Homo sapiens: one gene and its partner. The protein of the gene in region 2 interacts with the protein of the main gene of each other region in a biochemical or structural test. Each region holds a gene or a part of one and is shown on either strand. Other genes may lie near its edges.

The links. The genes of interacting proteins can lie anywhere in the genome.
Region 1: the proteins of ANXA5 (region 2) and ITGB5 form a complex in vitro, tested with the Homo sapiens proteins (one study listed by BioGRID).

Annotation. Positions count from the first base shown.
Region 1 is NC_000003.12:124,796,669-124,800,416, reverse strand, and holds part of ITGB5 (integrin beta-5 isoform a precursor), read left to right. Parts: intron 1-3,599; coding exon 3,600-3,748.
Region 2 is NC_000004.12:121,683,307-121,687,054, forward strand, and holds part of ANXA5 (annexin A5), read right to left. Parts: intron 3,067-3,748; coding exon 2,982-3,066; intron 1,466-2,981; coding exon 1,371-1,465; intron 172-1,370; coding exon 58-171; intron 1-57. UniProt on the Homo sapiens protein: This protein is an anticoagulant protein that acts as an indirect inhibitor of the thromboplastin-specific complex, which is involved in the blood coagulation cascade.

The DNA.
Region 1 (3,748 bases), on a different chromosome or scaffold from region 2:
ACTTTCTCCCAGACACATCAGCAAGATTCTGGAGACTTAACTCTCACTTTCATTGCTTTAACCCCAAGGCAGGCAAGTTTCCATGAGACAAGGTTATACTCACAGGTGTGTACTCCCCACAGTCTTTCAATAATTAAATGCCTTTGGCTCTTGGTCCAGGTCATTCCTCTGTAGTTTATTCAGTTTCTGACCCGCAGATGCCTCTGTGGAGCACAAGTCCAGCAAGTTGTAGCCCTAGAAGTACAGGGTTTCAGCTGTAACTTGAAGCAAGCTACAGGTAGCTTCAAGCATGTCACTGTTGTGGGAGCTTCAAGCAAATAGTAATAGGAGATGCAAGCAAGTTTCTCTCTGGGCCTCAGAAGGGAGGGATGGCATCTGCCCCTCAAAGCTCCATTCACCTCTGCATTCTTGATGGCCCCACGGGTGGCTTCGGGCAGGCATAGTCCCCACTCTTATCCTATCTGCAGGCTCAAATCGTTCCCAGCCCACGGCAGAAAGATGTGGAGATGCCTCTGGCCACCACTTTGGGGATCACCATCAAGGGGTCCCTTTAGTAAGCCAGGCTGGCTCTCCCTGCGCACCCCGATGAGGTAGACCTCATTCCCCCGTCTAGGAGGTGGATATGCTAAGGAGAGCGCGGGCCCTGCTCTAGGCCTGGCCCCACTCATCAGCTGTGTGAGCATGACTAAATCCACCAACCCCGCCAACCCTGTTTTCTCTCTGGTAAAATGAGGACACTTCCTTCTAGGGCATTTAAAAGAGATGCTTGTGGAAAAGTCCAGCACAGTGCCTGGTACATAGTAGGCACTTGGCAACTAATAATTATTAGTGTTTTGTTTTGCTTTTTTTTTCTTTTTGAGACAAGATCTCACTCTGTCGTCCAGGCTGGAGTGCAGTGACACGATCACGGCTCACTGCAACCTCCCCCTCCCGGGCTCAAGCCATCCTCCCACCTCAGCCTTCTGAGTAGCTGGGACCACTGGCATGTGCCAAAATGCCCGGCTAATTTTTTGTACTTTTGGTAGAGATGGGGTTTTGCCATGTTGTCCAGGTTGGTCTCGAACTCCTGGCCTCAAGTGATCCTCCCAGTCTGCCCACCTCAGCCTCCCAAAGGGCTGGAATTACAGGTGTGAGCCACTACGCCCATCCTATTCGTGTTATCCTTTAACCAATTTCAGTGTCCAAGTGGATTGAATCTTTACTCACCTTGAGAGACTCCCTGTACCTCGAGACCTTGGAACTTAGCCTTGGAGTTGTTTTTGTCAATCTCTCCCCTTTGTCTCTTCCTACTCTTCCTACCCCACAGAGATGGAAGGTAAGGTGGAGCTAGCCCAAGCTGTCTGCAGCTGGCCTGGTCCCCCGAGTGTCTTCTGATCCTGCTCCCCTAGCTATCCTCAGCTCACCTATCCAGAAGCCTCTCCTGTTGAGCCTCTTGGCTAATGCTGAGTCCTGGGTGTCTGTTGTCAAGTCCTTTGAAACAGCAGTTTGCTGCCACGCAGGACTTTCTGCAGGACTTATAGAGCAGGATCTATCCTCCTGCTCAGTCCCATACCCTCTCCCCTCTCCCCGTGTCCCTAGATGTCACAGCATCTGAGGGGAGGCCTTTTAGAACCAGTAAAAATCTCAAAGTAATAGGGATCTGTATGTTTAGAAACAGATATTTATAATGTTCTCAAAAAATGAACATCGTGGGCCGGGCGCAGTGGCTCACGCCTGTAATCCCAACATTTTGGGAAGCCAAGGCGGGTGGATCACTTCAGGTCAGCAGTTTGAGACCAGCCTGGCCAACACAGTGAAACCCCATCTCCGTCTCTACCAAAACTACAAAAATTAGCCAGGCATGGTGACAGGCACCTGTAATCCCAGCTATTTGAGAGGCTGAGATGGGAAAATCGCTTGCACCTGGGAGGCAGAGGCTGCAGTGAGCCGAGATGGTGCCACTGCACTCCAGCCTGGGTGACAGAGAGACTCTGTCTCAAACAACAACAACAACAACAAAAACATTGTTACCTGAAGATTGTCCAGTAAATCAAGTGAATGATGACATTTTAAAAATTAGCTTTAATGACTGGGCGCAGTAGCTCACACCTGTAATCCCAGCACTTTGGGAGGCCGAAGTGGGCAGATCACGAGGTCAGGAGATGGAGACCATCCTGGCCAACATGGTGAAACCCCATCTCTACTAAAAATACAAAAATTAGCTGCGTGTGGTGGCGCGCACCTGTAATCCCAGCTACTCTGGAGGCTGAGGCAGGAGAATGGCTTGAACCCGGGAGGTGGAGATTGCAGTGAGCTGAGTGCATGCCACCGCACTCCAGCCTGGCAACAGAGCGAGACTCCACCTCAAAAAAAAAAAAAAAAGCTTTATTCTAGCCGAAAGAATAGAATTAAGAATAGTAATAGCTGAAAGTGGTTTTTAACCCATTCTGAGCTTCAGAATGATCTGAGGAGCCTTTTGAAAAATAAAGACATTTGGACCCAGATCCAGTGAGTCTGTTTGTGGGGTGGGCCGGGCCTCTGTCTGTTCAGGGAGTAAGGGAGAACCCACCCCTGAGTAAAACTTTACAACGGCATTTCATCAGGGCACACTGGCCACCTGTCTGTGCGTTTTCATAGAATCCACAGTGACTTGCTCTCAGGGCCCTGATGGGTGATTCAGACCCCACATGGCTCTCCTCAGGGGGGTGAGGAGGAGAGGGTGGGGGAGTCAGGCTCTAGTTCCTGAATCAGACCAAGCCTCATTCTTGCTTTCCTTCCATCCCAGCCCTGTGGGCAGCTGACAGGCATCCCTCCCGCACCATCTGCCACCCATCCAGGCCCACCTTGAGCCTGTTTTCAAGGCAATCTGTGAGAAGCTCCTGAGTGAGAAACACTTCCTTACATATTCTGTTTAAAAAGAAAAGGTCTGTCCATGTGCATGGTGCATTTCATCAGTTGGAGACTCTTCTTTAAGACCTCAGGGGCATGGGGGGATTGTGAAAGATGCAGCTATGACAAGCACTCACAGAGGAGGAATTGGGGCACGGGGGACTCGGGGGTGTCTGGAGAGCAAGCTCTGGAGTCAGCTGAGCCCTTTGCCAGCAGGCACAGAGCCCTCTCTATGGCGGGCCAGGTGGGTGCCCTTCACCCGGCACCCTGTGAGAGTGCCATTGTGCCTGGCACAGAGGCAGCGCCCAGGAAATGTTTTTCCACCAAATGACTTTTTAAGTGAGCAGAGAAGAGGCATCTGCAGCGGGGCTGGGAAGAGGATAGGACAGAAGAGAAAAGAAAGGGAGAATAAGAACTGTGTGAACTCAAGGAAGCCCTATAGCTTTCCGCAGGGGCCCATTTCCTCAGGGTCATGGGGATGCAAAGAGATAATGAATGTTAAAGAATTCACCTGTCAAATGTGAGCTCACCTGTGCATTCTCTTCTCCATGAAGCATGGGAGCTTGCTGGTTCTGAGGTCTCTTCCTACTCCGGCCATCTTGGTGGTTCTACCTGAGTGCGTGGAGAGGGCTGGAGTTCGCAGCTGCTCTTCATCAAGGGCCCTGCCCCTGGGTGAATGGGAGACCCTGGCTTGCCGCAGCCATGATATCCCTTCTCTTCCTTCTGCCCAGGCATCTTTTGAAGTATCATTGGAGGCCCGAAGCTGTCCCAGCAGACACACGGAGCATGTGTTTGCCCTGCGGCCGGTGGGATTCCGGGACAGCCTGGAGGTGGGGGTCACCTACAACTGCACGTGCGGCTGCAGCGTGGGGCTGGAACC
Region 2 (3,748 bases):
ACCAAAACAAAATAATACTATCTATGCAAGAATGTTCCTTTCACTCATCCTTTTTACCTTCAAGGCATGTTTCAGTTCATAAGCATCATAAAGCCGAGAGGGTTTCATCAGAGCCACAATTAATTTTTCAAATTTTCCAGTTAGTTCTGATTTCAGGTCATCCAGAAGATCCTAACCCACAGAAAATACAAATTTGTTAACCAGCAGAAATTGTAATAAGATTCTTCTTAAATATGAATGACAGTCCTTTGCTCTAATGAATTCTTTATGTTGCTGTCTCCAAGTAGAAGGCCCATGAGCTAAACAAAACCCTATAACCTTGAATAACATACTTTTAACCTGTGACCAAAATCTTAAACTAAAGCAAACCCACTTATACGTCAAGATATTTGTTTCTAAAAGATGTTTTTCTTAACTTGAAAAAAAAGAATACCTTTAAAAGTAGTCTAAAACTATTTTATAAAAATACTATTCTGAGAAACATATCTTCTTTGTAATTTCAAAAAATAATCATATAATGAAATTTACAAAGGACAACATTTAGTCTCTCATACCCAAACGTAATAATTTTTTCTTTTCTCTCAATATGTAATAACATTCAAACACATAATAGATTATAGTCATTGTTATGACTCCTGACCACTGGGAGATATCTGTTCCTATGGGGAAATTGTGTATGTAATTATGAAAAAATTATGTAATTGTGAAAAAAAAAACACAGTATTTCCTACCTATAAGTTTCAGCATACCACACAACTAAAAATGGTGTTTAGAATACTTTCTTTTTTGCTTTGCACTTGTTTCCTTAGTTAAGTGACATACGTTTTCAGAATAACAAGACTACATTTAAGTTTTCCATGCATGCACTAATTCATTTAAATTTAAATAATTCAAATAATTCATTTAAATAATTCAAATAAATTTTTTTGAATTATTAATCAAATAAAAGCATTTAAATCAACTAATTAAAAACCCATTAGTTAAAATCATGACAAAAGGAACCAAGACTGTGACTGTGTTAAAACAAAACATATTTTAATACAGGCTTACACCTAGAAAATGGATAGTAAGACATCCATGTGAATGCTGAGTGGGAAACACAGAGGAAAAGAAGAGAGACAGTTCTCACTACAGGATCTTTTGGCACCTCTACAGCATTAGGCAAGGAAAAACAATTATGTGAGGATAAGCTGGGTGAGCACTGTATCCTAAGAGCTGATAATTTAGAGGAGAGTGGAAAAGAAACAGAAGTAGGGAAGTCGGAATCACAAAATAAATGATGCTTACAAAAGAATATCAGTATATTCCAAACTAGTCTTATAACTGATAGCTGTTCTCCCATTCTCTCTTGGGATGAAGTGTGGTCTTACCCTGCCAAACAGAGTCTTAAAAGCTGCAGAGATTTCCTGGCGCTGAGCATTACTTCGGGATGTCAACAGAGTCAGGATGCTCTCCTCATCTGTGCCTGCAATTTATGGTTAACAATTACATTTTGGCTCCTACATGCATACTCTCCCAACGATCTTGGCAACTCGCTTCCCAGTCACCTTATTTCCTTGCCTCTCCCTATGCGAATATAAAATATATTTTATGGCCGGCGCAGTGGCTCACATCTGTAATCCTAGCTCTTTGGGAGGCCAAGATGGGAGGATTGCTTGAGGCCAGGAGTTCAAGACCTGCCTGGTCAACATAGTGAGACCCCCATCTCTTAGAAAAAAAAAAAATATGTATATATATATATATATACACACACACATATATATATACACACACACACACACAGACGCAAATACACACATATATATAAATGTTTTATTAAACAGTTTATTAAAAATTTACAATATATAAAATGTTACGTTTCCAATATATTCTACCCCCCATTCCCAACCTATTGTGAAGTAGATGGAAAAATACTTCTGCCTTTTAAAAAACTTAGGGCACCTAGTTTTTTAAAAACACACAAATAAGTATGAGCTAAGGCAAAATGTGACAAGTGCCTCAGGAGAGATCTAGGTGTTAAATGGGGCTCAAAGAAGGGTCTCCTAGCTGATAGGAGGTGGAAGGGAATCTTGGAGAATGATTCATGGAGAAGGTGACACCCACAAGTATTGAAGGATGGAAGGATTGTGAAAGGCAGTGACGAAAGGAAGGACAGCGTTTAGAATGAGAGAAAAGCTCAGCAGTGGGGAAATACAGGGCTTTCATAAACAGCAGATAAGCCAGGATGGTTGGGTCTGAGAACACATTAAACAGTAATGGGAGATGAGTCTGAAAAGGTGGGCTGGATACAATGGAAGGACTTACAGGGCCAGAAAGCACATGAACAGTAGTACAAAAGGAGCCTGAGCACAGGAGATCAGTGACACATGGAAATCCTTGAGATGAGAGGTTTTTAAATGACTAGAAAAGAGGCTGGGGAAAGAGAAGAGTCTAGCAGAATGAGAATGGGATATCTGATTGGGAACAGAGCTGCACAGCTGCCCACCTGCAGGGATGGCTGCCTTATCGACTCGGGCCTCTACCACACAGGTGAGGGTGACAAGCTCAAAAGCACAGAGGCTGAATTTAACTGCCTGTTCAGTTCTAGAGACTGAATATTAGGGATGGTTTATAGCAAGCTTGTCCAACCCATGGCCTGCAAGCCACATGTGGCCCAGGACAGCTCTGAATGCAGCCTAACACAAACTCATAAACTTTCTGAAAACATTATGAAATTTTTTTGCTTTTTTTTTTTTTTTAGCTCATCAGCTATCATTATTGTTAGTGTATTTTATGTGTGGCCCAAGATAATTCTTCCAATGTGGCCCAGAGAAGCCAAAAGACTGGACACTCTGGTTTATAGTATTATTTTGTTATCTTAACATATCTCTTCTCCTACAGATTTCAGATCAAAATATTCTAAAATTATTCTTACTGTAATTAATGACTTGTTTGGAAAAACAAATATCACATTTGCTTTAGAAAGAGGAAGCTAAATTTACCCAAGCCTTTCATAGCCTTCCGAAGAGTTTCTGCATCAGCCCGCTCATCAAATCCAGGGAAGTCAGTCACAGTGCCTCTGAGAACCTAATTCACGAAACACAGTGGTATTATTCATATCATGACTAATATGACAAAGTAAATAACACAAACAGGAAGCCGCTTGCTATATATCATATTCAGTCATTAAATAAATTTACCATTTGATAAGATTTGTGACCCCTTTTGAACTGGGAAGGGAACCATTTACAATGGGAATTGGCATGGCCGATTCAGCACAGAAGCTATCCTGATCACCTGTAATACCATCAGTGGGAAGGCTGGCTCCCTCTTCTCTGTGACGAAACCCCACCAACACCTCCTGGTTCACAGAGGGCACATCTTTGCAGGTTCCCTTCCCATTAAGTCTCACACCATTTTGATCTACAAGCATACTGAGCCCGCACTAAATCTTAATACCCTATCCTGAGTACTCAATTTTAAGCAGTGCTCTTGTTACGTGCCTTTTGATCTAAGTCCTGTTTCTGTATACATACTTAGGGACTTTACGATAACCCAGCAAAGCCTGAAATGATCGTTCACGTGCCAGAGGAATACAAATCTTTGAATTTAGAACTTTATAAAGGTGTATTGGAAGACATTCTTCATAAAGCTTCCTGTTACACATTACTTTATCATATATATACACTGCTTTTAATAACCAAAATATCTTCGTATTTCAAAAAAAATTAGTGATATCGGCTGGGCGCAGTGGCTCACGCCTGTAATC